Homo sapiens: one gene and its partner. The protein of the gene in region 1 interacts with the protein of each later gene in a pairwise test. Each region holds a gene or a part of one and is shown on either strand. Other genes may lie near its edges.

Region 1 (3,753 bases):
AGTACATTTTGTCATCAGGCAGTGTGATGCCTCCAGCTTTGTCCTTTTTGCTCAGGATCATTTTGGCTATTTGGGATCTTTTGTAGTTTCATAAAAGTTTTAGGATATTGTTTTCTGTTTCTGTGAAGAATGTCATTGGTATTTTGATAGAGATTGCATTGAATATGTAGATTTCTTTGGGTAGTATAAACATTTTAACAATATTGATTCTTCTAATCCATAAGCATAGGATATCTTTCCATTTTGGGGTTCTCTTCATCTCTTTCATTAGTGTTTTTATAGTTTTTATTGCGTAGATCTTTCACTTCTTTGGTTAAATTTATTCCTAGATGTATTATTTTCTTGTAGCTATTGTAAATGGGATTGTTTTCTTGATTTTTTCAAATTGTCTGCTGCTGGTGTACAGAAATGCTACTAATTTATGTGTGTTGATTTTGCTTCATGCAAACTTACTTAATTTGTTAGTTCTAACAGTTTTTTTGTGGAGTCTTTAGGTTTTTCTAAATATAAGATCATGTCTTCTTTGAACAAGGATATAAATTAGCAACTTCCTTTCCAATATGTATGTCCTTTATTTTTTTCTCTTGCAAAATTGCTCTGGGTAGGACTTCCAGTACTATATTGAATATGGTCTTTAAAATATTTTTCTCTACACTTTATATTATGATAAAATATACATAACATAATATTTACCATTTTACCTATTTTTAAATCTACATTTCAGGAGCATTAAGTACAATCACACTGCTGTGAACCATCATCACCATACATCTCCAGAATATTTTCTTTTTCTTGAACTGAAACTCCATACACATTGAACAATAACTTCCTTTCCTCCCTACCCCAAGCCTCTGAAAACCATGTTTCTACTTTCTGTCTCTGTGAATTTGACTGCTCTAGATACCTAATTAAAGTAGAATCATACAATATTTGTTCTTTTGTATCTGGTATTTTCACTTAAAGGAAAAATTTATCTATAAACTGACAGAATTTAGAAATAAATACAACAATATGTAAACAGTTTTAATATCTGTGATAGTAACAAATTCTTTAAATCTGGAAAATAATAGTCACTTAAAATTTTAAAAAATTGTTCAATTAATAAATGATCCAAGTTAGAAATATGAACAAAATAAACCTCACCAATAATTACTATAGAGAGGAAATTTTAATTACTGCAAAGCTTTCCATCCTATAAATACATTATCAAATAGTTTAACCATTTCTTTAATGCTGAGATTTAGATTATTTCCAATTAACTCAAAAGCATCAAGCAAATGTTATGATTTCTAAGAATAAACATAACTTTCCATTTTGGCTTTTGTATATATGTATATTTCTAACGGCTGTTAAAGCCAGCATTAAGAAGGAGAAGCAGAAAGTCAGTATTGGGACTGGGGTTATTTATAAGCCAGGCAACTGGTTAATTGTGGTTAATTGTCTGGTATGTTTACTAGTCACGTAGTTGTATACACCATACTAGTTTTTCATCACAGGCCCTCATTCGCCCCCACTGCCATCGGACTTCCTCCTCCTCCCCTCACAGGAAATGTTTCGAGAATTTTTCAACCTAAAATCATATAGCTTGTGAAAAATACCGACAAACATAATATAGAATATTTAAATAACTGACACGCCACCTAAAGACCATCAGTGCTAATTCCTGGTGTTTTTAATCTTTGAAGCGTTTGTTTATCAGCTCTTCCACCATCCACCTCTCCCCTCCCCAGGTCCCCGATCTAAAATCAAAGAGATTGATTTAGGATGGGTGGGTGCCTTGTCTTCTCTCATTGTTCGACATTTTAGTTACGTTTTCTCTGAGCTCTCTGGAAAGCATAAAAGTATAATATCTGTTAAAAGTTGGATGAATGAACTAATGAACGCAATGGGATTCCAGAAAACTCTGCGGGAGATGGGCTAGAGGACGAGGAGGAGGTGGATGAATCAGCCATGTTAGAGAGCCTGGGAAGGTGAGCAGAGTTGAAAACTTGATAGATCTAATAATTTACTGGCTCTGGGTTTGTCAGTCACTACATTGCAGCAAATGAGATTAGAGCATAGTTGTGGGAGGGAAGGAGGTGACGCAGCAATCTATTTGCACCTAGAAATTTTAGGCAAGTGATAGCTGCGTAATCATACTGCGGCACCGTTTTTTTCTTGCAGCAGTAGCTGCTTGCGGAGGAGGTCTGCCCACTGCAGCTCTCTGCAGTCTCCGGCTCTCTCCTGCAGGATCGGTCAACGCAGCCGTCGCCGCCCTCTGCACCCAGCCCAGGTCGCCACTGCTTCAGTCCGGTTCTCAAAGCCTCAGCACCATCTTTTATCCCCGAGCAGCCTGGATCGTCGTTCCCTCAGTCCGGACGCCACTGCTAGGTCCGACCACCGCCGCTTCTGATATTTCGGTGAGTCTTTTCCTGTGGAGGTTTGGTCTCCCGATCTCTGTGGTAGCCACCTTAGGCGTGTACGGTCCTTTGAAAAATGGCCGAGTCAGAGAACCGCAAGGAGCTGTCAGAATCCAGTCAAGAAGAGGCTGGTAATCAGATAATGGTGGAAGGGCTCGGGGAACATCTGGAGCGCGGTGAAGATGCCGCTGCTGGGCTTGGAGACGATGGGAAGTGCGGTGAAGAAGCTGCCGCTGGGCTTGGGGAAGAAGGGGAAAACGGTGAAGATACTGCTGCTGGGTCCGGGGAAGATGGGAAAAAAGGTGGCGATACTGATGAGGACTCAGAGGCAGACCGTCCAAAAGGACTTATCGGTTATGTTTTAGATACAGACTTTGTTGAAAGTCTACCTGTGAAAGTTAAGTACCGTGTGTTAGCCCTTAAAAAGCTTCAAACTAGAGCGGCCAATTTAGAATCCAAATTCCTGAGGGAATTTCATGACATTGAAAGAAAGTTTGCTGAAATGTACCAACCCTTACTGGAAAAAAGACGTCAGATCATCAATGCAATCTATGAACCTACAGAAGAGGAATGTGAATATAAATCAGACTCTGAGGACTGTGATGATGAGGAAATGTGTCATGAAGAGATGTATGGTAATGAGGAGGGTATGGTACATGAATATGTGGATGAGGACGATGGTTATGAGGACTATTATTATGATTATGCTGTGGAAGAGGAGGAGGAGGAGGAGGAGGAGGACGACATTGAGGCTACTGGAGAAGAGAATAAAGAAGAGGAGGATCCTAAGGGAATTCCTGATTTTTGGCTAACTGTTTTAAAAAACGTTGATACACTCACTCCTTTGATTAAGAAATATGATGAGCCTATTCTGAAGCTCCTGACAGATATTAAAGTTAAGCTTTCAGATCCTGGCGAGCCCCTCAGTTTCACACTAGAATTTCACTTCAAACCCAATGAATATTTCAAAAATGAGTTGTTGACAAAGACCTATGTGCTGAAGTCAAAGCTAGCATATTATGATCCCCATCCCTATAGGGGAACTGCGATTGAGTATTCCACAGGCTGTGAGATAGATTGGAATGAAGGAAAGAATGTCACTTTGAAAACCATCAAGAAGAAACAGAAACATCGGATCTGGGGAACAATCCGAACTGTAACTGAAGATTTTCCCAAGGATTCATTTTTCAATTTTTTCTCTCCTCATGGAATCACCTCAAATGGAAGGGATGGAAATGATGATTTTTTACTTGGTCACAATTTACGTACTTACATAATTCCAAGATCAGTATTATTTTTCTCAGGTGATGCACTGGAATCTCAGCAGGAGGGGGTAGTTAGAGAAGTTAATGAT
Region 2 (3,753 bases), on another chromosome or scaffold:
GAAGATAACCAATATAAGAAGTGCATAGACAACGATAATAAAATCCAAATTGGACTCAAAGGTTGAAGTCTAATCTACTGGGACATTCTCTTAATTTAGGGTGAGGAGCAACACATTCCTGTGATGATTCATTAGTTTCTTAATTAAAAAAAAATCCCCATGACATTTTTCAAAATAGTAAACAGTCTTCATTAGTGCATCAAGCATTGAAGAAAAATTGTCGTCTTTCCATTCGTAAAATGAAGAAGATAAAAGCCTTTCAAAATCCAGGGCGGGGGATTTCCATTGAATTTAGAGAAGTGAAATAAACTGGTAAAAACTGTATTTCATACTTTTAACAAAAGAGTATTTTCAAGACTCAAGGTAAACATTTAGACCCATAAAAACACATTTCTTGGCACATGCACGCCATGGATGGAACAATCCTGAATGCAGCGATGGCCTGGCTACAGAGGTATCCGGCTCCTAGCCCCACTGGCAAAACTGTCTTTTAGGACCTTGTCCCAGCTCCCTTCACATGGGGGTCTCTGGCTTCTGCATCAGCTGGATTTGCTTCTGTAGCTGGTCCCTGTCCAGCTTCATCTTGGCCTCGAGAACTTGCCTGAGGGATCCTATGCTTTCATAGACGGCTGTAAACCCTTGAAGGAGAGGTAAATTTCACAACAGTTAACAATTTTTTTAAAATGCTGTATCAAATTCTATAGTATCTAGTAATGGTTGATTCAGGCAAAAATTATTAATAGATGCTAAAACCTCTGGGATGAAAGTATGATGGGGAACAGGTGAGTTTCTAGTTTCTCCCTAGAGATTACTTTTTAATTACAAAAAGGAAAAAGGAACTATTACAATGGAGAAGACTGTCATATACCCCTTTAACCAAGTGATCAAATCTCACGTCACCCATACTGGGAGAAACAACATCACGTAACTTCTGAAAAGATACCCTGAGCAGGGCACAACATCACTTCTTGACATTTTTAAAGAATACCAAAATACACAACCTAAATTATATCAAGATGAAGCAAACAGGCCTGGTACGGTGGCTCATGCCAGTAATCCCAGCACTTTGGGAGGCCAAGGCGGATGGATCACCTGAGGTCAGGAGTTCGAGCCAGCCTGGCCAACACGGCGAAACCCTGTCTCTACTAAAAATACAAAAATTAGCTGGGTATGGTGGCGCACACCTGTAGTCCCAGCTACTCGGGAGGCTGAGGCAGGGAGAATTGCTTGAACCCAGGAAGCGGACGTTGCAGTGAGCTGAGATTGTGCTACTGCACTCCAGCCTCGGCGACAGAGCAAGACTCGTCTCAAAAAAAAAAAAAAAAAAATGAAGCAAACAAATCTAAACTAGGGATAGTCTACAAAATGCTGGCTGGCTGGTATTCTTTAAAAAGGTCAACATCACTGAGAAACTGATCCAGATTAATAGAGACTAAATAAAGAAACATGACAACTAAATACGATGTGTAATTCTGGATTAGAACCTGAAGGGCCAACATCACTAATTATAGGAAAAATACAAATTAAAACCACAATGAGTTATCACCTCACACCTGTTAGGATGGCTATTATCAAAAAGACAAACGAGTACAAGCATTAGCGAGGGTGTGAAGAAAGGGGAACACTTGTACACTGTTGGTGGGAATGCAGGATGGGGCAGCCATAGTGGAAAACAGTATAGGGCAGGGGTATCCAAACTTTCAGCTTCCTTGGGCCACACTGAAAGAATTGTCTTGGGCAATACAAATACACTAACACTAATGATAGCTGATGAGTGATTTAAAAAAAAAAATCACAAAAAAATCTCATAATGTTTTAAGAAAGTTTACGAATTTGGGTTAGGCTGCATTCAAAGCCATCCTGGGTCGCATGTGGCCTGCGGGATGTGGGTTGGACAAGCTTGGTATAGAGGTTACTAAAGAAATTTAAAATAGAACTACCATACGACCCAGCAATCTCACTACTGGGTATATTCCCAAAAGAAATTAAATTACTGCCTCATAAAGATATCTGCACTCCCCTGTTCACTGCACCATTATTTACAATAGCCAAGATATGGAAACAACTGAAGTGTGTCCATCAAAAAATTAGTGAATAAAGAAATTGTGTATATATACAAATGATGAATATTATTCAGCTTTACAAAAAAGGAGAGCCTGCCATTTGTCACAAATGGATAAAAATGGAGGACATTATGCTAAGTGAAATAAGACAGATACAGAAAGAAAAATACTGCACGATCTCATATGTGGAATCTAAAAAAAGAAAAGGAAGGAAGAAGGGAAGGGGAGGGGAGGGGAAGGGAAAGGAAGGGAAGGGAAGGGAAGGGAAAGGAAAGAAAGGAAGAAAGAAAAGAAAGAGAAAGAAAGGAAAGAAAGAGAGAAAGAGAGAAGGAGGGAGGAAGGAAGGAAGGAAGGAAAGGAGGGAGGGAGGGAGGGAGGAAGGCAGGCCGAGGCGGGTGGATTACTTGAGGTCAGTAGTTTGAGACCAGCCTGGCCAACACCATGAAACTCCATCTCTACTAAAAATACAAAAATTAGCTGGGCCTGGTGGTGCACATCTACAATCCCAGCTACCCGCGGGGCTGAGGTATGAGAATCACTTGAACTTGCGAAGAATAGGTCGCAGTCAGCCGAGACTGCACCACTGCACTCCAGCCTGGGCGACAGAGCAAGACTCTGTCTAAAAAAAAAAAGAAAAGAAAGAAAGTCAAAAACATAGAGAATAAAATGGTGGTTGCCAAAGGTGGGGCGGAAGAGGAGGAAATGGGGAGATGCAGGTCAAAAGATACAAATTGCTGATATGGAGAATGAACAAGACCAGATGTCTAATGTATAGCATGAGGACTGCAGTCAATAATATTGTATTGTATTTGGGATTTTTGCTAAAAGAGTACATTTTCAGGTGTTCTTGCCACACACACACACACACACACACACACACACACAGACACACACACACAAATACCTGTGAGATGATACATATGTTAACCTGCTTGAATACAGTAACTATTTCACTATGTATATATATATCAAAATATAAACATCTTGTTGTATACCTTAAATATACACAACAATTTTTTTTATTTAAAAAACATGTAATTAGAAAAAAAAAGACACTAGACTGGAAAAGGGTTGCTATAAAGGAAATAATGGCACGTTGAAAATTGAATATTAAAAAATATTTCATTGATGATACATTGTATTAAAGTTATTTATAAGAGAATATCCTTGTTCTTAGGATATATACACTGAAATAATAAAAGGGCAACCAGGCAGCGGCTCACACCTGTAATTCCAGAGCTTTGGCAGGTCAAGGCAAGAGGACTGCTTGAGGCCAGGAGTTCCAGACCAGTCTGGGCAACATACTGAGGACCCATCTCTAAAAAAATTTTTTAAATAAAAAAATGAGCTGGGCATGGTGGCACATGCCCATAGTCCTAGCTGCTCAGGAGGTCGAGGCAGGGGGCTCACCTGAGCCCAGGAGGCTGTAGTGAGCTACGATCACACCACTTCACCCCGGCCTAGGCAACAGAGTGAGCCTCTGTCTCATTCTGTCATTTTTTTTAATTTCCAAAAAAATGGAAATAATAAAGGGGTAAAAAGGCATCATGAGGCTAGGCCTGGTGGCTCTTGCCTGTAATCCCAGCACTTCAGCAGGCCGAGGCGGGAGGATCATTTGAGGTTGGGGGTTCAAGACTAGCCTGGCCAACATGGTGAAACCTTGTTTCTATTAAAAAAAAAAAAAAAAAAT

The links.
Region 2: the proteins of NAP1L2 (region 1) and FAM81A interact in binary tests that used the Homo sapiens proteins (3 or more experiments, as listed by UniProt).

Annotation. Positions count from the first base shown.
Region 1 is NC_000023.11:73,213,215-73,216,967, reverse strand, and holds the start of NAP1L2 (nucleosome assembly protein 1-like 2), read left to right. Parts: upstream 1-2,116; 5' UTR 2,117-2,475; coding exon 2,476-3,753. UniProt on the Homo sapiens protein: Acidic protein which may be involved in interactions with other proteins or DNA.
Region 2 is NC_000015.10:59,518,139-59,521,891, reverse strand, and holds part of FAM81A (protein FAM81A), read right to left. Parts: intron 639-3,753; coding exon 514-638; 3' UTR 1-513.